Linked DNA regions of Homo sapiens. The protein of the gene in region 2 interacts with the protein of the main gene of each other region in a biochemical or structural test. Each region holds a gene or a part of one and is shown on either strand. Other genes may lie near its edges.

Evidence for each region.
Region 1: the proteins of KCNV1 (region 2) and SYNJ2BP interact in a test that uses a peptide from one of them, tested with the Homo sapiens proteins (one large-scale study listed by IntAct).
Region 3: the proteins of KCNV1 (region 2) and PTPN3 interact in a test that uses a peptide from one of them, tested with the Homo sapiens proteins (one large-scale study listed by IntAct).
Region 4: the proteins of KCNV1 (region 2) and MAGI1 interact in a test that uses a peptide from one of them, tested with the Homo sapiens proteins (one large-scale study listed by IntAct).
Region 5: the proteins of KCNV1 (region 2) and MAGI2 interact in a test that uses a peptide from one of them, tested with the Homo sapiens proteins (one large-scale study listed by IntAct).
Region 6: the proteins of KCNV1 (region 2) and NHERF2 interact in a test that uses a peptide from one of them, tested with the Homo sapiens proteins (one large-scale study listed by IntAct).
Region 7: the proteins of KCNV1 (region 2) and PDZRN3 interact in a test that uses a peptide from one of them, tested with the Homo sapiens proteins (one large-scale study listed by IntAct).

Annotation. Positions count from the first base shown.
Region 1 is NC_000014.9:70,410,591-70,414,090, reverse strand, and holds part of SYNJ2BP (synaptojanin-2-binding protein), read left to right. Parts: intron 1-3,500. UniProt on the Homo sapiens protein: Regulates endocytosis of activin type 2 receptor kinases through the Ral/RALBP1-dependent pathway and may be involved in suppression of activin-induced signal transduction.
Region 2 is NC_000008.11:109,969,272-109,972,771, forward strand, and holds part of KCNV1 (potassium voltage-gated channel subfamily V member 1), read right to left. Parts: coding exon 2,987-3,500; intron 1-2,986. UniProt on the Homo sapiens protein: Potassium channel subunit that does not form functional channels by itself. Modulates KCNB1 and KCNB2 channel activity by shifting the threshold for inactivation to more negative values and by slowing the rate of inactivation.
Region 3 is NC_000009.12:109,418,308-109,421,807, forward strand, and holds part of PTPN3 (tyrosine-protein phosphatase non-receptor type 3), read right to left. Parts: intron 3,179-3,500; exon of another isoform or gene 2,927-3,178; intron 2,294-2,926; coding exon 2,117-2,293; intron 1-2,116.
Region 4 is NC_000003.12:66,028,919-66,032,418, forward strand, and holds part of MAGI1 (membrane-associated guanylate kinase, WW and PDZ domain-containing protein 1), read right to left. Parts: intron 1-3,500. UniProt on the Homo sapiens protein: Plays a role in coupling actin fibers to cell junctions in endothelial cells, via its interaction with AMOTL2 and CDH5. May regulate acid-induced ASIC3 currents by modulating its expression at the cell surface.
Region 5 is NC_000007.14:78,120,668-78,124,167, forward strand, and holds part of MAGI2 (membrane-associated guanylate kinase, WW and PDZ domain-containing protein 2), read right to left. Parts: intron 1-3,500. UniProt on the Homo sapiens protein: Seems to act as a scaffold molecule at synaptic junctions by assembling neurotransmitter receptors and cell adhesion proteins. Plays a role in nerve growth factor (NGF)-induced recruitment of RAPGEF2 to late endosomes and neurite outgrowth.
Region 6 is NC_000016.10:2,036,902-2,039,526, reverse strand, and holds the end of NHERF2 (Na(+)/H(+) exchange regulatory cofactor NHE-RF2), read right to left. Parts: intron 2,573-2,625; coding exon 2,529-2,572; intron 1,990-2,528; coding exon 1,927-1,989; intron 1,771-1,926; coding exon of another isoform or gene 1,741-1,770; exon of another isoform or gene 1,702-1,740; coding exon 1,543-1,701; 3' UTR 501-1,542; downstream 1-500.
Region 7 is NC_000003.12:73,387,442-73,390,941, reverse strand, and holds part of PDZRN3 (E3 ubiquitin-protein ligase PDZRN3), read left to right. Parts: intron 1-1,063; coding exon 1,064-1,126; intron 1,127-2,872; coding exon 2,873-2,974; intron 2,975-3,500. UniProt on the Homo sapiens protein: E3 ubiquitin-protein ligase. Plays an important role in regulating the surface level of MUSK on myotubes. Mediates the ubiquitination of MUSK, promoting its endocytosis and lysosomal degradation. Might contribute to terminal myogenic differentiation.

The DNA.
Region 1 (3,500 bases), on a different chromosome or scaffold from region 2:
CATGAAGATATATAGGGAGGAGACTGTCTCAAAATACCACTAGAAACTAATCACCACTAGAAACTTCCACATAATTTTGATGGTCCCATAAGGATCTTTCTATCTATGGAAGAAATATGAAAATCCTCTAAGTATGCATTTCTTTTGTAGGCAGCATTGCCCACTCTTTGTGTTTGTATAGCTGTGTACTCAGGAACCTGATGTTTAATCAGATCCGAGAACATGTGTACCATTCCCCCTTTGTGTTCTGTCAGGGACAAGAATTGTGGATATTTCCAGTGTTTGGGCCCATATTATAAGGCAGTCGAACCTGTTCCTGACTGATCTGCTTACTGCAAGGGAAGTAATGAAATCTTGGGGAAATTATGACAACAGAGTGAAGAGGCAAAAGAAGCTTGACATGTATTAGGTTGGTGCAAAAGTACAATTACTTTCTTTTGTTCTTCTTTTTTTTGAGACGCGTCTCACTCTGTCACCAGGGTGGAGTGCAGTGGCACGATCTTGTCTCACTGCAACCTCTGCCTCCCAGGTTCAAGCAATTCACCTGCCTCAGCCTCCTGTGTAGCTGGGATTACAGGCATTTGCCACCATGCCCGGGTAATTTTTGTATTTTTAGTAGAGACAGGGTTTCACCACGTTGACCAGGCTGGTCTTAAACTCCTGACCTCAAGTGATCCACCTGCCTTGGCCTCCCAAAGTTTTGGGATTACAGGCGTGAGCCACCCCGCCCAGCCATAAGTACCACTACTTTCAATGGCAGAACCGCAATTACTTTTGCACCAACCTAATAGCATGGAATCTCTCCTGTTGTCTGCTTTCTCAACTGTAAGAAGGGACTTGGGCTAGATGACTTCAGAGGTCTCTTCCATCTCTAAGAGTTCATTCTTTGGCTCATTTTATGATTATTTATGTTATTTTATGTTTCCTACCATTTGGAACTTCGTTTTGTTTTTATTTCCTGCCATTTTAGACTAATAGTATGAGCTGAAGAATTACAAAGGCAGTGGCTACAATCTCAAATGTCTTCAAGGGTTGAACAGTTTACCTTTTATCTTTAGTGGAATCTTGTTTTTTTCTACAGGAGTCCAGCTTGATTATAGTATCTAAGGCTCTCACTTTTTCTTTATCAAATTGAAAGTCTCTTAATGCGTCTCAAAACTCAGTTACTCTAAAAAGTGTGACAAGACTGTTTAATATGTTTTTTTGCACTGCAACAGGTAAGAGATTGGCCATAAAGACAACCTTACTGTACATTGAGTACTATGATTAGGAATCTTGTTTTTAGGTCCGAGTCCTCAATGGGTTTCAGCAAGTTACTCCTGATATGCCATCTTTAAAGAGGGAAGAGAATATTTATTTTCTTACTTTCTTTAAAGGCCTTGGAAAAGATGATGGGTTGATGGCAGTGTTTTAATAATGAATACTAAAGGAGGTATTGTCTTTCCGGTAGTGTGCTAGTTACTATATATACATATATATACTGTATATATACTATACATACATATATATACTGTATATATACTATACATACATATATATACTGTATATATACTATACATACATATATACTGTATATATACTGTATATATACTATACATACATATATATACTGTATATATACTATACATACATACATACTCATTTAATCTTCACAGCAACCCTGAGTAATAAATATTTAATCCACATTATTAGATTGGGAAATTGCCTTGGGGAGGTTAAGGACTTGCCCAGTTTCTAATGCCAGTAAATTTCAAAGGATTTTTAACCCAGGTGTGTTAATTCTGCTATACCATATACTACTTTCCACTGCAGTAGCCATGTTTAAGAAGTTGACTGCCAACCTTTCCCCTGACCTTTATTTTATTATATCATGCCTTATTCCCAGAAGCATTTGAGGCATCTTAAATGACTAATACAACCTACAGTGGAAAGTTTTTATTGCTTGCTCTTGATAGAGCTGAGGGCATATCAAGGTGAGTACCTAAAATCAAGATGCCCCATTAAGTTCTATCATTTAAGCCTTGTAGACCTGTCATAGGCTTTGGGTTTCATGCTAACTGAAACTGTTGCTAGCAGTTTTCTGATCTATTCCTTTCTTCACATATCAAATAGATGTGAGGCTAAATGCTATATCCTTGCCCTATTTTCTCTTGCTTACACAAAGTCTCGCCTTCATGGAGTTTACAATCCAATAGAGATATGATGTTCACATATGAAAAATTAAATCTCACTGCAAAGGTGCAGATAGTTAAGGAAAATGATGAGGAGGTAGTTAGTGGGAGGGCAAAGGAAGTGCGGAAAGGAGCATGGTAATCTGACCCTGTGTTGGGAAAGTTCAAGAATGCAGACACTGCTGAGAACCATTAAAATGGTCAATTAAAAGAACGTGGAACTTGTGGGTCTTCTGGAATGGACAGGCTTTAGGCTAGGGCCAGAGTCAGGGATGAGTATGGCCTAAGCAATAATAGAGAGAAGAAAATAAGCAGAGCATATTCTGAGGTTAGTGAGTAAACCAGCCTGGACAGAAGGAAAGTTTCCTTTAGGAGATTCAAGAGAGAAGAGGTAGCTGAGTAGTAACCTGAGTAGGTGGAGATCAGATTATGGAGTCTTTAGTGTTAGTATGGAAACTTAATCTTTCTCTAAAGTTCTATCTGGATTCTTTCTACTTCCTAGCCATTGATTAGGACTCAGTTCAACAGTTAGCTCCTCCAGGAAGCAGGCTTTACCTAGGATAGATGTTCTCTTATTGTCTATATTATACATCATTTACAGATTGCCTGTAATGTATTCCCATGTATTGCCAAGCTAAGCACTGTATCTTGTCCCCTTGTAAAAAGGAAGAGATGAAATGGTTATTATCCCCATTTCAGAAATGAGGAAACCTTGACTTCTGCATTATACAACTCTTTAAGTGAAGATTTCGATCCAGGTCTGTGTGACTTAAAATTCCAAGCCCTGAATCATTATAAATAACTTTTTTTTTCTATATGCTTTCTCACTTATGTCTCCTCCTTCTACTTCACTTTGAGCTCTTCTGAGTCAAAGAACATATATTTTATTTCTTATTTTCTTTCATTTAACTATTATTTTAGGTTCAGGGGTACATGTATAGGTTTGTTATATAGGTAAACAGTGTCATGTGGGTTTGTTCTACAGATTTTTTCGTCACCCAGGTATTAAGCCTAGTACCCATTAGTTATTTTTCCTGATTCTTTCCTCTCAACCTCCACCCTAAGTAGGCCCCAGTGTCTGTTCTCCTCTGTGTGTCTATGTGTTATTATTTAGCTCCCACTTATAAGTGAGAACATGTGGTATTTGGTTTTCTCTTCCTTTGTTAGTTTGCTAAGGATAATGGCCTCCAGCTGCATCCACGTTCCTGCGAATGACATGATCTTGTTCTTTTTCATGGCTGCAAAGTATTCCATGGTGTATATGCACCACATTTTCTTTGTCCAGTCTACCATTGATGGGCATTTAGGTTGATTCGATCTCTTTGCTGT
Region 2 (3,500 bases):
CCAAGACACCCACTGAAACCCTACTCCTTAATACCAAAGCTGTAAGAAATTATCTCCCTTGAGTACATAAAATTTCTGCTTTCCTATAATAACATAGACCTGAATACAGAATATTCCTCCATTGCAAAAAGGTATGGGAAATGGAACCACTAGAGAATTTACTCTTTATGAAGCATTGGCTGCTTTTCCATTCCTAGATCTGAGGATTTATTAAACCCCAGGGAGACAGAACCACGATAGTCCAATTCCGTCTCTGAAGACACTAGGCCTAAGGGGAGTAAGAGCCCATTATGGGCCGGGCACGGTGGCTCACGCCTATAATCTCAGCACTTTGGGAGGCTGAGGCAGGCAGATCATGAGGTCAGAAGTTTGAGACCAACCTGGCCAACATGGTGAAACCCTATCCCTACTAAAAATAGCAAAATCAGCCCAGCGTGGTGGTGCGTGCCTGTAATCCTAGTTACTCGGGAGGCTGAGGCAGGAGAATAACTTGAACCTGGGAGGCGAAGGTTGCAGTGAGCCAAGATCACGCCATTGCAATCCAGCCTGGGCAATAGAATGAGACTCCCTCTCAAAAAAAGAAAAAAAAAAAAAAAGAAAGAAAGAAAAGCCCATTATGGAACCAGGCTTTGAATGAACCATAAGATTTATTCCCTAATACTAGAGAGGTGGTTATTAAAGTTTGTCCACATTTTGAAATTATATCAACATGATGTCAAAATGATATTGCCCCAGAAGTCCAAAACAATACCTCTTAGAATCATTTTTTGTTTTTATTCACTCACTAGAGACTATTTCAAAGGCATTAGCATACTAATCATACTCTTAGGATTTTGAATTTTGCTCTTCAAATTTTGAGATATTCTTGAATTATTAACCAGCTATTTTTAAAGATCATTGAGTATTTTGAAGTTTAACTTCAAAAGAGTATCTTTCAGAATACCTTTATAATACCTTTACTTTTATAAAAAACTGGCCTTGATGTGTCTACATGGAATTATGTTCCTTAAATAAATTCACAGCATATGAGGAGATGCATAGCATTTGTCTGGGAACACTGTTTTAGTTTAAAGGCAAAATGTTCAAAACAATTTTGTAAAGGAAAACAAAGTGGGTGGAATTTCTAGCATGTTATCTCTATTAACTCAGAGAATCTTCAAAAGAAAGGATATAAGAGGGACATGGTAATTGTTATGCCATTATACAGACGAGGAGGCTGAGGCATAAAGAGATAGCTTATCTAGTAGAAAGCTACAGAGCCAGGATTTAAACCTAGTTTCTGGCCAAAAACCCATTATCCTATAACATCTCTCAATTTGAATTTATAATTAATACATGGGGAAATAGGTCATCTATGTGTACATTTTAATAAATGTAGTGTTGAGGCAAAATTGTCAAATATGCAAGTCACATATTTTTTAATAATTAAGGGTTTACTAAAACTTTATACTTGTTTTAGAATGGTGAAAATCTTTGAAGAGGAGACATTGTGGAAATCACTGTTATTTTCCTTTTCCTTTCTTTTGGAAAAAAATGTAGTTTTTACTGGGTGTTTTTAAATTGAGTCTTGTGAAGAGTTTATAAATACTTGAAGAAAGCATCCCATTATCTGTGTCAGAAAACAAAGAGTGGTACTTGTAAAAGTTATTGGAAACCCCATTATCAAATTCCTGGTATGTGAGACTAGCTAGGAAAATACACTACCAAAATTATATTATAATAAGTTCTAATTGTCAGAGAAATGTTGAAGAAAAACATATCAGAAGTAATTTCACCTGACATTTATAGGAAGGACAACTACCATCAACCTTTTTTAGGTGGTCAGTCAGGGCACATATCTAGGGAAATAAAATAAGGATAGTGATATCTAGCCAATTTGTTTGTGCTAATATGTATTTGTATCAACATATATAAAATTAATATGGCATCATACTCCAGTGTTTCTCTAGGTTTGGTCCAAGAACCACCTACATCAAAGTCATTGGTGAACTTATTATTTATAAAATGTGTGCTCCTAGACCCGATCTCAAGCTTTCTGGGGGTTGGAGCCAGAAGCTGTATTTCAACAAGCTTGCCTGGGGATCCTTATTTTCATTAAGGTATGTCATAAGGAAACTCATATACTCCACAATATCTGACAGCTGCAAGGCCAGCCACTGATAACTACTACTGTTGGGGATGCAAGAATCATTTTTAATCAGTTCCTGTGATTTTCACTGATATTGATTATAATTTTCACGTATCTTATGTGTTTGTGTGTGTGTTATATGGAGACTTTTCTAGGAAAATATTAATTAGATTTTCAAAGGCTCTGTGATACACAAAAAACTAAGGGATTTCTGTATTCCCCTCTCTCATACATCCCAGGTTAGGGACAAGAAAACCTTCAGATACTAGATAAAGCATTTAATTAGTTTATTTTGCTTTCTCCCAAAGCAAAATATTTTCATTGCTTCTTTGAAAATTTTGGAAAGGCCACCTGCACCTAGTCATTTCTCTTTCTGCATGGCCAGAGAAGGCTCTGAAGGGCTGACTTTCTCTTCTGCCAAGGAGCATATGTGGCAAGCACTTCTCGGATACTGAAGAGAAATTGGCTTATGTCCCTATATATCATATATAATTTATGTGTATCTTTTTATGTGTCATTTATGCCTGTTTTGTCCAGAACCTTGAATAGGCAGAGTGCGTTTAATTTTTGTATATCTTCTGGGTAATGGTTTCAAATAAACTGAGGTTAGCAAATGGTCAAATTGTCTCTCAACATTTCTCTTATGGAGAGGAGGTATGTGAGAGCTCATTTCTCTATACCTGTGATAGCAACTTCAATGTTTTGCCTCCCAATATCTCCTTAGAGGTCATGATCAGGTAAAGTATGGGAGTTGGTAATTTTGAATATCAGTTCAGCGTTACTTTCCTTGTACTGTGGTCAAAAAACGAATGCTTACATGCAATGGCAAATTAAAAGGCATCAGTGAAATGTGAATACCTGTGGAATGTCTGCCCAGCTTTAGCATGCGCAGAGCCCTGAGCAGCCTCAACACCTGGACAATGCGCCCCACGTTCTCCAGCTCCTGCGTGGTCTGGCTCCCACTTAGGCTCTCTACCAGAAGAGTGATGTAGAAGGGCAAGATGGCAAGGAGGTCTATGATGTTTGGCACCTTTCTTAGGAAGCGACACCTGTCCCGCACACACAGGAAGCGGAGGACAAACTCCCCGGTGAACCAGCTAATGCACACATACTCCAGGATTTCCAGCAGCTGCAGGTCCAGCCAGCTTAACTCAGCTGACATCAGGGCCATGTTAATGATGGACACCACCACGAAGATAATGGAGATGACGCCAAAGATACGGGCAGCTGTGGAAGATCCAGGTTTCTCCAGGATATTCCAGAGCTTCTGGCGAACAGTGGGACAAGGTCCTTGGGAGAAGTCCTGTTCACTCTCATGTTGACTTTCCTGGTCTTCTGTGTCCTTCTTGAAGTCTAAAGTTTCACTCAGCTC
Region 3 (3,500 bases), on a different chromosome or scaffold from region 2:
AATGAATGCAAGCCCTCTAAAGTGCCTGCATGTCATTGGACAGAATGCATCCCTCCCCACCTGGCACTGATTGCATAAAGAGACAGAGGGTGCTGGGCTGTGAGGGCACTCAGAGGCTATCCACCTGCCCCATGCCACAGATGAGCAGCTGGGTGAGTGGTGTGGAGCGCCCAGACTGCAAGCAAGGTGATGATTCCAAACCTACTCCCACATGAATTCTGTGTGAAAAATGCACTTTTCGCTTGTAGATATTCTAGGGGTTCACCCTTTAAATGAACGATGGAATAAACGTGTTAGTCTAGATGAGTGCTGCTGACAACACTTTCTGCAGTGATGGGAATGGGCTGTATCTGTGCTGTCCAAGATGGAGGCCAACACTCCTGTGTGGCTGTCAAGCAATTCAAATGAGGCTCATGTGACTGAGGAACTGAATGCCTACATTTTTATTATTTTAATTAATTTAAATCTGAATAGACAACTGGGGCTGGTGGCTGCTGTACTGGACAGGGAAGGTTTAGATGCTGTACAATTCTGTGATGGGACTGCAAACCACCACAGGAAGCTCTGACGCAGCAGGTGTGAGTGGGCTTCCCAGAGCCCTCCAACGCTTCCCTAAACCGTTTTCTCCTTTTGCCAAAGCCGCAGAGCCCCCACTGCAGACTCAAAACGGCTCTAGTCACGCATGCCTGCACTCCTGCTTTGTATTTCTAGATGTGCTTGTGGTTTGAAAAGCTACAAAGTCACACAAAGGAACTCACAATCATCCACTGTAGCCCTGACAAAGGGGCAGCAGGCTGCAAGTTGGAACAAGAGATAGCAATCATTTAGCAAAAGCATCATCCAAGCTCAGGTCACAAGGAAAGAATGACCACAGGGATTATTTAACCAGAGGTGTTAAGAACACAGATAAACTGGAAACCATGTTTGCTGTGGGCAAGGACAGAGGAGAGGTAGCAGCCTCACATACAAATGGGAAGGAGATTTGCAATTCACCTGCAAATGCCTGGAGTCCAATCAGGGTGCATTTGATGCTTTCAGCCTAATAGCTACAGTGGTAAAAAATTTACAGATTAACTAACGTGCCTGCTTGCTAATCCTCAGCTGTTAGGGGGGCCATTATCTTACTATATTTTAGAAATAGTATGGGGCTTAACAGAATAGATACCCAATGACTATGGTTGATTTCCTAACAGTTGATCCTTTACTATCATGCTTTAACCTAATTTATAATCTATGTCTTACCTACTTAAAAAAATGATTTGCGAGTTTACCCCAAAACGTACAGATATGTAACTATGAATCCATTAAAATAAGAAAAAAAAGACCCATATAACAAAGGCAAATGAGGAAGAGAAGGTCCTATACAAGAAATCTGGGCTGAGGGAAGTGAATACAATTGAGCCTAATGTGCAGTTCTGAACTCCCTGGTAACCAAGGCAAAAAGGGAAACAAATGGGTTAAATATATCCTATTGAATAACAAAAGCACTCAACCATCTTTCAGGACAGACATTTTTTCTGTCCTTGAGCTATGAGGGAACTCTGTCACGTTAAAAAAGCGGGGTGGGGGAGGTAGGACATAAAAATTTAACAAAAAATTTCTCAAAGAAAATTAGAGATGTTCTAACGTTTGTTTCTTTATACTAACTATTAATTGAAAACAAAACCCCTCAGAACCCTGTTGTTCGGAGAAGGCTTTTAGAAGCAAGCATATTTCCAATGATTTGAAATCATGTGATGGTAAAACTTTAATAATCTAGAGAAATCAGAGTTAGCATGGCCCTAGAGTCTGTACCTCCAGAACAGGGAATGATTAAACTGGGCTTTGCTTGTGAGCTGGAGAGGAGACTAATTCAAGAGACTAACAAGTACTTAGTGACTAGGAAGTCTTTGTCGTGGACAAAAAGAAGTACAAGCTCTAGACCCCAGGCACATAGACCGTCTTCCGGGTGAAAAGGTAGAGTCTGATTTATGTTCTTATCCTGGCAGAAGGCACCTGTGGGAGCTGGCTGCAGGCACCAGCTCTTGGTTCCTCTCAAATGGCAACCTGGACCTGAGCAAATTCCGCAACAGCCAAAAAGCAAATACCCAGAAATAAAACAACACGAGTTTCTTACTCTTGGTGCGGGCTTCGGTTCTGAGAAACTTCAGAATCGCTGTCTTGAGGGGCCAGAGAGCCCTTGTACGTGTAAAATACATCTTCCGTTTCCGTGATGTAGGTCATTTCATTTGCAAGGTTATCTGCAGAAGAGTGGCGTGGCTTTCGGATTTCGTGCCGGAGCCGAGGACTTCGCCTGGGTGGGAAAAACGTTGAGTGCAAAGTGTTCAAAGCAAATTCCACTTAAAAATTTTATTAGACACCAGTGAACCTCGTGTCCTGACCTTTCTAAGGATGCCTTCCTTGGCGGAGGCTGACATTCAGAGCCGGTTAACTCATTACTACCCCAGCAGAAGGCACCAAGGGTGACACAAATCCCTAACACTCTCAGTCAAGTGGTGGCTCCCAAAACAGTAGCCTCAGCTGTATAAACAGGCAGAATTAGATGGGTTTATGCCCTTTGGGAAGTGACGGGTATTGACTTAAGGGTAAGTTATTCTTCCAGGAGGACTCAAGCTCTCAAAACATAAATAGGCCATATGGACTGCTATTCAGATAATTTTTCTGATTAATTTGAACAATGCAAACAAAAGGGTTAGAAGCCAAACTACATTTCTCAGCAAAACTCCAACCTTATTTCAACGACATCCCTTCATGTGAATTTCACTTGATCCAAGAGAAAATGTTTGCTTTTTAAGATATATCCCTTATTAAACACGTTTATATGCATTAGATGGGCATATAAACACTGGACTGTCCTCCAACAGTGGCAGTAGGCATGTGACCTTGGGCAAGGCACGTCACCTCTCTGGGCCTCGGCTGTACTTACCTGCTCCTGAGAATGAATCCAATGAGGCCGTGTTCTCAGGGCATCCAGTGTGGCACCTGGGCGTCAGCTCCTGCAGCGGGGGATCCCAAGCTGCCAAGCTTTCTAAGTTCTATTTTCCCTCACAGTTTTTCCATCTTCCCTTTCTTTGTTAGCCATTTCTCCTCAGGACTGTCAGGGCCTCCATGATTTGCAATCCCCCTGGGCCTGGATAATCAATAATGCTGTGTCCAAAGCAGAAGTAAAAAGGCTCTTGTGACTCCTCAGGAGAGGACCTATAAATAGCCACAGGAGCTCCGGGCCACGAGTGTGGCAACATCCAACCCCGCTGTTCCCCTGGATCCAGTCCTGGGCTCTCTGGGCCCCTGGCATTGCTGCCGATGAGATTTTCAGATAAATTAAGCTGCTGTGTTATAGCATAAATTTACCTCTTTAGAATGAGGTATCTAAATGTTGGAAACCAAGAAGCAAATCTATTCAGTTACGTCATGATTTCTAACACTAAATACTATCACTGTCCCTTCCCAGAGCATTAGGCCCCCAGTGAAGGGGTCCTTCCCTAGCAGGCCCAGCACAG
Region 4 (3,500 bases), on a different chromosome or scaffold from region 2:
TCTCCCAAGGGCTTTCAAATGGGGAGCATTCAAACAATTACAGAAGCCAACATTTATTGAGCACTCACTATGTGCCAAGCCCTGTGTCATGTGGTTTACTTTCTACTTTTCCAACAACCCTAGAGAGTAGGTATCATTATTATCCCCATTTTCCGAGGGGGAAACCTGGCACAAAGAGGTTCAGCATCTTGCCCCAGAACACCCAGCTCATAAAGTGTAAAGCCTGCCTCTTCACCCAAGCCAACCTTGGGTCCAAAATCTGACTCTATGACACATCAGTAAATTGCTATTTGTGGATCATTTTATGAGCAGTACTACGGTCCTGATGACACTATATATAGCAGTAATTTTGAAACATGGCTTATAATCAGGGCACGATCGCCTTTTAATTGCACCATCATGCCCCTGTCCATAAAGAGAGCCTCGAGTCTTGTCTCATAAAGGAGTAAAGATTATCCTTATTGTAAGAAGCATAACTGTGGCCCATTAAACAGACACACAAATGCCTCCATCCACAGTAATGGTGGGGTTGATACCTTAGCCATGAGAATGTAATTATCTTATGGAACTCATCTTCATGACACTGGAGATGGTAACAGAAAAAGTCTATACACACAGCCAGAAGAACCTCTCAGTCTGTTTAGGGGTGAGAGAGTCTGCAAAGTTCCATGACACACTCAGCATGGGGCTGCCTTAGACACACAGTGGTGACTTGCTCTTTAAAGCATCTCCATTGGCCTTCTTGACTCACTGGTCTCACCTCTTCCTTGCCCTACTGGAACTTCCTGGGAGCACCTCCCAGATAAGCCCTGTGCATTCAAATCCTGACCTAGAGTTGCCTTCTAGGGATTCATGTTGGTGGGGAGCACACAGGACTGAAAGTGGACTGAGGCCAATGACTTGGCTAAGTAAGGGATGCTGTGCACAGACCTATCCCTAACTCGACAAGATCTTCATGGTGACTCTAGTAGCCTCAGCTCTCCTGTTTGGATCAGCCACCTGGTACCCCTTGTTACCGTCATTTCCCAAATCAAAGTAACCTCTGAAAATCAGGACACTCAATTAATTTTAAAGTCAAGGACCTCTTCCATGCAGGGAAACCTAAAATTGGAAATGTGACCTTATCTCTGACTCCAAGGAGACTCCAGTGGACTCTTCCCTCCCCTTCTTGACAAGAAACCAAGGACCCACATGTTCTTACTTGTAAACCCATAATACTAAGACCAACTGAAGCAGGCCAGCAATGTTCACTGACTTTAAGAATATTCCTGGATCAATCGGCTAAGCTCTATTTTAGCCCCAGCCATTGACTGTAAATGTTAAACTCTAACCAACTTTAATGTGATCCATCATCAGTCACCTAAATTTTCAGGGACTTCTATATATCTACATTTTCAGAGGTAACTGACCTCAGAAGAGATTTATTCTAGTTCTAAACTTGACTGTAAACATTTAACAAATACCCAAGCAAGTACTAGGCACCATGCACTGTTTTTGCTACTGGGGATACTGTGGGAGAACAAGACAACATTCCTGCCATCTCAGAGCTTACATTCTAGAGAAAGAGGTAAAATAAGAAATTTACTTGTGGTGAAGCGATCTACATACTATGGAGTAAAATAAAGCTGAGAGGGGGAACAGGGAATGACACGTGGCAGTGGAGTTATGGTTTTCAATAATGTGCTCACAAGAGGCCTCACTGGGCAGGTGACATTTCAGAAAGACTTGAAGCTCAAGAGATAGCAAGCCTGTAAGATGATCAGGTGGGCACTAGCAGGCAGGACAGAGAAAGAGAAGTAATATCCTTAGGACAGGTCACGGGCAGCCTTGGAAGTCACTATAAGGACTTCGGCTTTCACTCAGATACAGAGACTACAGAAATGATTAATAATGGATTATTCCATTATGTAATTACTGAGCCATAAAAAGAGAAGATTTCTATTTAATCATAAAAGACACTGCTCAAATTACATTTTCTAATTTTGCTACATGCCTTCGGAAAAGTTGACATCCAGAACACATTAGACCCTCCACAGGACACTTAACTAGAAAGCAGAGTCAATATGATAGGACCAACCTTGACATCTGTTGAAACAACAAAATGAATTCATAAGAAATACTACATCGATGCCGACCTCCATAGGGGAGAAGTCTAGCAATGCACCAGTGTGTACTAGGGATTTTTCAAGGTTACAGATCTCACATATGAGCTGCAAAAAGACAGGCAGGCATGCAGTAACCTACTTTTTTAGGATGTGAATGTCAGCCCTTAACGAATTTGACAGCCTTTATTCTCAGTGTATACAAAATCAGTATATCCTGTTACTTGTATATACAAACTCAAGGAAAGGGCCACTAACACCAGAGAGTGGTGCTTTGCATTAAATAACCCTCGTTTACAAAGCAACATCCTTCATGTAAACCCTTGTGGTAAGGAGATGTCAGAATGTTTTCTCTTATAAACCACTTAATTCCCCTTGGTGGATATCATCAATTCTGCCATCTAAAACCAGCTGGGTAATGAATGCCAAGAAACACGGTGAGCCAACTGTATGCCATTGCCACAGAAGGTCAAGTTAATCTATTTTTAAATAACACAGCCAATGACAAGGGGTGGCCACTGGAAACGATGGACAAGTGCGTTGTACGTCCTTGCTTCATTTTTTGTAAAACCTGTACAGTGTTCCACAGTGTAACCTAAAAATATCCTTCCAAGAGTGGTCTTTTGGCACCAAGAACAAAAACAGGTTGATTTTTGAAAGTTTAAGTTAAAAAAAAAAAGACATAAATACAAAGTACAATTTAAGAGCGAGAGGGCTAAAATTGGATTGTGTTCTGTAGCAAAGATCTGATTTGCTATTAGCCAAAAAAAAAAGTACACAGGGACAATGCTGCAAGAAAACGGAGGGAAAGAATCATTTTTAGGCATGAGGACACAGGTCCCACATCAACAAAAAAAATCCTCATCATCCTGCCTGCTGAACATCTGAAATTTCACGTTTAGAGGCTCACTTGTTAAACTTCAGTTAGAGTCAACAGGCAGAAATACTTGAATAGGATTCATTAATCCTTGTCAGTCATTTATAGCCCAGTATAAATTATTAGACACAGAAAGCCTGCTAATTGGAAGATCTGATTACGAGAAAGTGAAGACCTCTGGATCCTAAACAAGAAGTAAAAGACAAATCGAGAGAAAGGGAGGAAAGATGTTGCAAGTGGCCTAGTTGCACTTACCTTCCGAAACAATGGAATAGTCATTCAGGCATCCAACCAATTTTAGTGAGCACCTATTATTTGCTGGGTCTTTTTTTTGAGATGAGTCTCACTCTGTCACCCAGGCTGGAGTGCAGTGGCGCGATCTCAGCTCACTGCAACCTCAGCCTCCCGGGTTCAAGCAATTCTCTGCCTCAGCCTCCCTAGTGGCTGGGATTACAGGCGCCCACCACCACGCCCGGCTAATTTTTTTGTTTTTTTTTTTTTTTTAGTAGAGACAGGGTTTC
Region 5 (3,500 bases), on a different chromosome or scaffold from region 2:
CAGATTGGTGGGGGGTGGGACAAAGAAATACTCATTAAATAATGATGCTGTGGACCGGGCGCGGTGGCTCACGCCTGGAATCCCAGCACTTTGGGAGGCCGAGGCGGGCGGATCACGAGGTCAGGAGATCGAGACCATCCCGGCTAAAACGGTGAAACCCCGTCTCTACTAAAAATACAAAAAATTAGCCGGGCGTAGTGGCGGGCGCCTGTAGTCCCAGCTACTTGGGAGGCTGAGGCAGGAGAATGGCGTGAACCCGGGAGGCGGAGCTTGCAGTGAGCCGAGATCCCGCCACTGCACTCCAGCCTGGGCGACAGAGCGAGACTCCGTCTCAAAAAAAAAAAAAAAAAAAAATAATGATGCTGTGACATGTGGTTATCCATATGGAAAAATTGAGATTGAGGTTCTACCTTATATCATACAGAGAAATCAACTGTAGGTGATTAAATACTTAGATATAAAAAGTAAAACTATACAACTTTTAGAAGAAGATATAAGAGAAGACGTTTAAGACCATGTCTTGGAGAATGATTTCTCAAACAAGACACAGAAAGCAGAAACTATAAAAAAAAAAAAAAGGGTTAAGCCAATTACGCTAAAATTAAGACTTTCTCATTATCAAAGAGCATCATAAAGAAAGTGAAACTGCAAGCCATAAGCTGGCATAAGATATCTGTATCACATTAATTGATGAAAAAGATCACCAATAATATATAAGCATTTCTATAATCAACATGAAGAAATATTCAACAGAAAATGAGGAAAGACATGTACAGGCATTTTTTAGTTAAGAGAGAACATGAACGTCTAATAAATATAAGAAAAAATGATGAATATGAATTTGTAATCAAGAAATGCAAATCCAAATCTAAAATATATAATTTTCTACCTACCAGAATGAGAGTTTAAAAGTCTGACGTACAAATCTTGTGAGTGTGTGTAGTAAGAAAAACTTTTTTACATATGCTAATACAAGTATAACTTTGTAAAACCACCTTGGACAATACTTTTGTGTTACTTAGGTAAGTTAAATTTGTGCCCTCCAAGGCATCTAGTCTAGTCTAGAGAAAGTCTTGCATAGGTACAGCAGGAAAGATGTACAAAGATTGTATGAGTTACAACAAACTTGGAAACAACCAAAGTGTAAATTGACAGGGAAAATCTCAAATGTCCATAAAATGGAAAAATAGATAATTATTATAGGTTGTAGCATATTCACATAATGAAATAACTTATAGCAGTGAAAAATAAATGGACTATAGCTTCATGCACCAACCTTGGATGAATCTCATGAACATAACATATAGAAAGCAAACCACAGAGAAGAACATGTACAGTATGGTTCAGTTACATAAAGTTCACAAAGTGCACCAAGCTAAAGGTTATAGTTGAGAGATACACACATCTGTGGTAACAACAGAAGAAATGTCAAGTGCTTTATTTAGGAAGGTGGTTCCCTCTGAGGGCTGGAGAGTAGGAGGAGAATGAAATCATGGGAGCTTGGTAATGTTCTGTTTTTTAAGTGGGGCTATGGGTTCATGGGTCCTTGAATCATGGTTAGTATTTACACTTATTACATATGTTAGAAATATTCTTGTAAATCGTTTTATGTTTAATAAAAACAATATATAAACCAAGATGCTTTTGTATTGACTAGTTATATCTGGTCTATAGAAGGAAAGGTGACAAATTTAGAAGAAGCTAATTTCAGGGAATGTTGCTTTTCCTTTAAAAAAAAGATGGGCAAATGATATTTTTTTGTGCATTGATTGGTTGAACAAAATGTTTTAGTCATTCCAAAGCCCATTGCAGGCAGACTTTTGCATCATGTGAGTTTCAGAAAGTAGGTAAACCATCTTATAAATAAGCTTATGTGATGCTAAATAGGCATACACAAATGGTACCCAGCTGCAAGTGATGAAGTTATGAAATAATGTTCTTTTTCATCATAAAAATACATTTTATGGAAATGCGAACTATATTACACTTTTATGGAAACAGGAAAATATTTTACCATTTTAAGAGCAAACGATCTCCTTTCAGATTTCTCTTTTAACTTGACTCTCAGATTTTTATTTAAGCACTTAGAATTTCTATTCTTTCCCTCCAAATGTCTCCTGATTTCTTACATTCCCTGTTTTACTGAGCTTTGCCAATATTATTTTTTATGTTCATTATTTTTTGCCTGTGTTTTCTATTTAGTTTTGGCTTTTAATTAGGTTATATTCCTAGGAGCTTTGTATCAGAGATTTTATTCACTAGCTATGAAAATTTCATCCCTCCCAATTTTATTAGGCCATTTTACAAACGTAAGTCTTCTTTTTATAAACAGCTCCAGTAATATTTTCTAATAATTTATTATCCTTTTCCTTAAAATCTGAATGTCCATTGTGTTTCTCTTATGACACCAGCCTTCTTGACTGACTGAAGAAAAGCAAGCAGACGTGACAATGATATATCTCTTTTTATTATTCCCCTTATTTTCTGCATTCACAGATTGTGTTTTGTTTTATCTATTCAACTTTTAATACATCAGTATTAACTGATGTTGAAAAACCATCTAGTATAATAATTAAAGTCAAAACTTGCTACTCTCCACTGGTTTTTTGATAAAGTGAATATAGTAGCTCCCTCTCATACCTCTTGCATATATTCCAACATCTCCAGCGGATGCCTGAAATCACAGGCAGAACTAACCCTATATACACTGTTTTCCCTATATATATCTATGATAAAGTTTAATTTACAAATTAGACACAGCAAGGGATCAAAAACAATAAAAAAAGAACAATTATAACAAAATGCCAGCATCACTACTCTTGCACTTTGGGGCCATTACTAAGTAAAACAACGGTTACTTGAACACGGGCAGTGCGATACCATGATAGTCAATCTGATAATCGAGAGGGCTGCTGAGTAACCAGTGGGCAGGTAGCATCTACAGTGTGGATAAAGGGCTGTTTCACCTTCTGGGAAGGACAAAATTTCAGCACGATACTCACAACGCTGCACAATTTAAAATTTATAATTGTTTATTTCTGAAAAATTTTATGTAATATTTTTGGATTGCAGTTGACACAGGTATCTATAATAAAACCTCGGAAGGTAAAACCTCAGAGTTTCACCTGAAGAGCTTCCTAAAACATAGCCTGGTGACCCCACTCCTAGAGTTTCTGATTCAGCAGTTTTGGGTGGGGCTAGAGAATCTACATTTCTACCAAGTTTCCAGGTGATGCTGATGCCAGGAACCGTGCTGAGAACCATTGCTCTGGCTTAAATTCTGTAAGAAAGAGGAATCTTTTCCTGCAAGGGTATTTCTCTATTTAGGCTTCTTTGCCTTGGGAGTACTGTGTATATCCAGCAGCGAGTCATTTAGATCCCTTGTGAAAATACATGGCCACTGTTTGTAACCGACAGAGACCAGCCCTGTAGTCCACCGTGGGTCTCTATCTCTCACAGGGCTCTGGCCATTTTGCACATGGTCTTCCTACTGTGTTTCA
Region 6 (2,625 bases), on a different chromosome or scaffold from region 2:
GGCCCCCCAGCTTCCCAGCCCGGACACCGCCAGCTCCTGAACTTTCATGCCCTCAAAGCCCAGCCTCTGCCAGGGTCCCACCCCTGTTTACAGAGCTACCCGGCCTTGAAAGGGACACTGGGGACCCAGGCAGGGCGCCACAGGGTACAAAGCTTGACCTGTGACTGCTAGAGGTCGCAGGGTGAATTGGGCAAAGGGTGGCCCGTGTGGGTGTTGTGTGGGGCCGGATGGCTTCACAGGGAAGGTGAAGGTGGGAGGCTGAGTCTGCCAAATAAGAGAGATGGGCATGGGCCCAGGATGTGCCACACAGCAGGGGGTCCCATGGGGGTCAGCGGGGGAGATGGAGCAGGGCTGGGAGCAGATGGATGCAGGGCACGGGCTCAGGAACGAGACCGTTTCCAGCTGCTGAGACTCGGGGAGGGGGCTCCCTGAAACAGCCTCATCCCTCCACCCCTCTCACCCCACGGGGAGGAGGCTCAGAAAAGACAGAGGCGTGTGGGTCCCAGGCAGGGCCTGTTTATCCTGAGAGCGCGCATGCGCTATGGCTTACGAGGCAACAGCGGTGCCGGTCGATCGGTGGTCGGTTCGGGGGTGCGGGGCCCGGGAGGGAAGTGCAAAGTCAACAGGGTGTCCACGGGGGAGCCCGCCAAGCAGGGCTGAGCCAGAGGCCAGGCGTCCTTCCCGGGTGCCGCTCTCACACACCTACGTTCCCCAGGCCTGGGAGCTGCCGCGCGGAATGAGGGGCCTGTCCAGAGGCCGCCCTCCTCGGGGACGTGGGGCCTCCATCCTCAGGCCCCTCGGAGAGCCCAGGCCCCCAGCAGGGCACAGGCGCACAGGGTAGCTGGGTGGGGAGCAGGGTGTGGCCTAGGGACCCCCACACCAGGGCAGGTGGGCAGGGGCAGCTCCTACGGCCACATCAGGCCTCCCTGGCCTTACCCAAGGTCCCCACGAAGAGGCTGGGCGCCCCAACTTGGCCACTGGGAAGTCCCAGGGACTCCCACTCAGGACGGCCGCTGCTGAGGGGAGGGGGCGGGGAGGAAATGGTTTGCAGAGAAAGGTTTGTTTTATTGCAATTATTTAGAGCGCGTCCCAAGGGGGAGGGGAAGGGGGAGGGGAAGGGGGGGGGTCTCTGGTATTAAGTGGAAACATGTGTGGAGCTGGAGATCTTTTTGGAAAAAAAGCAAAAACACAAATTCCTTTCAGTCAGCAGGCCCCGGCAGAGCAGCAAAGGCCCTCGCCCCGCGGCTGCCGCGCGCTCGCTCGCTCTCTCTCTGTCTCTCTCTGTGTCTCTCTCTCTCTCTCTCTGTCTCTGTCTCTGACTCTCTCTCACATCTCTGGGTCTCTCTCCCCCTATCTTGCTGCCACAGGCCCCCAGTACCTGGTGGGCAGGGGCAGGATGGGGGCTCACCGGGGCTGGGGCTGATTTCTGGGCAATGGCAGGACCACCCTCCAGTCCACTGAGGCTGGGGGAGCTCGGGGCAGGCTGAGGCCCAAGGTCCGTGCGGGAGGGGTCCCAGGGTCCCGAGACAGGCAGGAAGGGGCTCAGAAGTTGCTGAAGATTTCACGCTTCCTGTTCCAGTCCATCTGTGGCGCGCGCTTGTTGACTCGCATGGCTCGAGCCTTCTCCTTGGCCTCGGCCGCCGTGGGGCTCAGGTGGAGGCCGCTCTCCTGGAAGGGATCTTGCTTCCAGGCACTGCCATCCTGGGGTGAGCACGGTGGGTGGGGTGTCTGGAGTGAGCCCTAGTCCCACACCCCAGACGGTGGCCCCTCCTAGGGAGCAACCAACAGAGGCTGCCTGCTGGGGCTGGGGCTCACGAGGACTTCCTGAACAGAGACCCCACTGCCCGGGCTGACATCTCCACAGACGCCTACCCCAAGGCCTCTAGCAACCCCACGTGTGAGCTCAGGAGTGGAGAACATCCATACCTCAGTGTCCTTGTCGGAACCAGGCAGGTCACTTCGGGACGAGCACGCAGAGCCACCATTGAGCTGGGAAACCAAGGGCAGATTGTGGTTTCACAGACACACACAACACCTGCACACGCACACATGTGCACAGAGGCACACCCCCCCCCAGTGTGTGCTCCTCCACTCGGCAGGGGGCCTCGGGCCTCTGGTGGACTCCAGATGCGGCGGGGCAGGCACCGGGCGCCTGGCAGTGACAGGCAGGTGGCCTGGCCGGCTCATGGTGCAGAGGGGGTTCAGGTGCAGGAATGGCCGGCGTGAGCAACGCCTGGGGTGAGGCCACCGCCAGCTCCCTGAGGAGGCAGAGACTGGAGGGCAACTCCTTACCAGGTGGTGCCCAGGAGAGGACAGAAGGCAGTGGCCCCGACCCCAGGGGCCCCACGTGGCTTGTGTGTGGCACGACCCAGGATGAGACCCACAGGGGCATTAAAGGGAGGTGACAGGGCTAAAATCGGGTGTCACTAGCACACCTCGAGGACGGATCTCCAGGGAGAAGGGGGCCTCTGTCGGGCCTGGGTACCCCCAGAGGCACCCTGTGTCTCATGGGCACCCCACCCTCTTACCTGGGCAGGGCTGGTTCCATTGGTGACGGGTGACGGCAGAGGACCTGTGGGGACAGCGTGTCAGTGGCTGCTCAGCCACCACACCGCACCCACCCTG
Region 7 (3,500 bases), on a different chromosome or scaffold from region 2:
AACCCACCTCATCAAGATCTCTTTGGAAAGACACAAATTATTCTGTCCCCCTCATCACACTCCATGGCGCTGCATCTTTCCACGGAGGTTAAGTTCTAATGCCAGTACTTATGGCAAAATTACCCTTGAGAAGCCTGCAAATCAGCCATAAAATGGAGCCGTTTACATGGTTTTGTGTGTTTAGCCCCAAGGGAAGAGCAGATTCACATTTCCCAACTCGTGTTCATTGAGTGGAATGGTGGATGGAATCACTTACACTTTTTAAAGCCTCTCTCTCTCTCTCTCTCACACACACACACACACACATTTTTTTTTCTCTTGGTGGAGTATATATAGTTGACTTCATATAAGTTAAATGTGACTTGTATGTACTTATCAAACTACATAGATGCACGCTGTTTTGATCTTCCTTGAGAAGATAATACAAATCAACTGATTTCAGTATGGAAACTTTACAGTGCACACCCATCCTTGCAAACACAGAAACCCAATTTTGTCAGGAAATAAAATTTGTCGCTACAGAATGATCTACTAGACTTAATAATTATCTCTTTGGTTGTATGTCATTCACCAAGCTTAAGTTAACCCATCCTTTCTGCATTTGGGGACATCCCTCCCCTTACCAGTCCCCCTTGTCCCAATTATATTTCAATTTTAAAGTTATTTTCCAAATTTTAATACAAGTATTTGGTATAAAATAAGGTATAGTTGCTAGTCCACATAATGAAGGGTATCCTTTAACCTGTTCTACATCATTGATTTGATTTTAATTACCATGCATGCAACAAAAGTCAGCTGTGCCTCCTCAGATCAGCAGAGCCTGCACACACTGCTGTGTAACAGGGTTGCTACACAGGGATCCAAGAACCAGCCCTAGAAAGGGCTTAGAAGCAGATCAGCTCATGTTTGCCTCTCCTTGCACGACACTAAGTCTTGTTTATTTCTGTGCAAAACAGAAACACAGGGGTGAGCATGACTGTGTTTTAGAAATGGTTTTGAAAGTGCTGTTGCTTATTTTCATGCATGTCTGCGTTTGCGCTGAGATGGTCCATGTGTGTTTCAGATTGACCCTAACAGCATTGCAGCCAAGGATGGGCGCATCCGAGAAGGAGACCGCATTATCCAGGTAAGTCCACTTCCAAACAATGGCCTCATGATGGGCCTATCACTAAAGAACAAACTGGTTCTAATGATAGGTCTAGGGTTGAAAATGCAGAAGCGGTTAAAGAACAGGGATCACAAACGCAGATGTGTAGTGAGGCCAGACAAGTTAAACTAATTGTGAGGCTATCTCTGAGTCATAAGACGCAAGAGGGAGTGGTGAGGACTGGGACAAACTAGATGGGGCATGTTCTCTCCAAAGAGGGCCTTGCAAAATTTGAGCCAGTTCTCCTTATTTTGTTTCATTCTGTTTGGATCAAAACAAACATCAGTGAGCCAAAGTCAGGCCAACAGTTTACAACTTGTGAACTAAAATAATTCTCGTTTTAGATTTCTCTGAAAGATTAACTTTGGACCAAGCATTTCAGAGGCTCGTCCATAAAAGGGGAACATTTTTGGCAAATTTAGCAGCATCGATTGAAAAGTCTTAGAAATTTTCTGACTCAACATCTAACCATCCTGGAATCGCTTCTAAGGGTCATTACTTGACCTCGAGCCCTGTTGCTCCGTCTAGTCCAAATGAGACCATTCATGTCTCTTTTGGCTACAACCTTCTTTAATCTCACAGAATTGAAATTCTTGGCTTCATTGTGTCCACAAGGCTTAGCTTTCTACCTCTTCTCATCCGTATCCTCTCATTCTTAATCCACTGTGTTTTTCTCATTGCATACCTCACCACAGGTCATTTTGATTTTCTTCTTCCACTGCCTACTCTGGGTTTCTCTAGCCTTCAGCCAGAACCTGTGCTGCTCAGGATCGCTTGCCCTAGGGAAGTGACCCAAACCTTCACACCTGAAGGGTCAGGGTCCTCAGCATACTGCCTCTTTTTTTTTTTTTTTTTTTTTTTTTTGATTGCTGGAGTTTTCCATTAACCTTTACTACTGAGAATGGAAGCACTCAGAGGTACTCCAAGGAATCCCCTAGGTTCCAGACACAATCCTCCCTGCCTCCACTGTGTCACAGCAAGCCCATCTTCCTTGGTAATTGAGGGCAATCACTCCAACCAATAGAGTCACCCCTTTTGCTGCCTGTTGGCTCACTAGTGTAAGGAGGCATATGGAAGCCTCCACTTCCAATTCAGTGGAACCATTGCTGTGTCCCCTGGAGGCGGCGTTCCACCAGGACTAAGACCTCCAGACCAGCAGGGCTCAAAGTCACCAGGACATGCAAGCAAAAATCCTGCAAGAGGGTTAATCAAGTGTGATAGTGAGAGTGTCACGCCCACTTGACCCTCCGCCTGGCCCAAAGAAGTTTAAGTGTCAAACTGGGGACACAAAACACCATGTATAATTCTATTCCATTTTCTTAACCTCAGTTTGCTGCTTTTTCTTCTATATTATCCAATAATGTCTACATATACTCCTGCCTGAATATTATGTCTAATTGCTTCCATGTTCCCTCTGCAGAGCATTATGATTTTTCTCAGTGCCGTCTTCTGGAGGTCCAGCCCCTTCTGTTCACACCCCACACATCACAGTCACCTCATGAACTATACTCATGGAGGCTCCCTTATAGACCAGAGAAACTGCATTGGTCTGAGCAAGACCTTTCCTTCCTAACATCAGTATTCTTTTCCAGCTACACGGAAGTTGTATGTTCTAACTGTGAGTGGGTGACAAATGCAGGTCTGAAATAAAATAGAATGATTTTGCACCATCTAATCATGCTATTTGTCTCCCCACTCTCCCCACCCCCCCTTTTTTTTTAAAAGATTAATGGGATAGAGGTGCAGAACCGTGAAGAGGCTGTGGCTCTTCTAACCAGTGAAGAAAATAAAAACTTTTCATTGCTGATTGCAAGGCCTGAACTCCAGGTAAATTGGCTTCCTACAGATGAAACTGGGTCTATATTTCTAAAATCAAAAGATCCCCAGGCCTGCAAAAGAGCACCTGAGTATTGGCTGCGAACTTGAAGGTGCTTTGTTCCCTGGAAATGTAATCAAACTTGCTGTGATTCAGAATTCACTTTATGAGTTAGCCATTTAAGGTTGGTTAGATGCCCACCCTGGCATCTATACTGCAGGCCCACGACGTTCATTAATGCAGGGATCATAGGGAAGGAAAAGGAAACAGAATTGAATGGAAAACACAACCGGGGTCACGTCAAGACATTTGACTTCCCAAGGCCTGACATATGTTCCAGCCTTGATCTGTGCAGGTTTCATTTACAATAGCAGAGTATGGGGAATTAAAACTTGCTCTTTCAAATTAAAAGAAACATTGAATGATAAATAATTAAAACTGATATGACCACCGAATAAGTGCTAGGCCCTCCGTGGAGCACTTTACACACAGGAGAGCCTTCCCAGGAGATGGAAGTTCCCAGAGATTCAAAAGTTA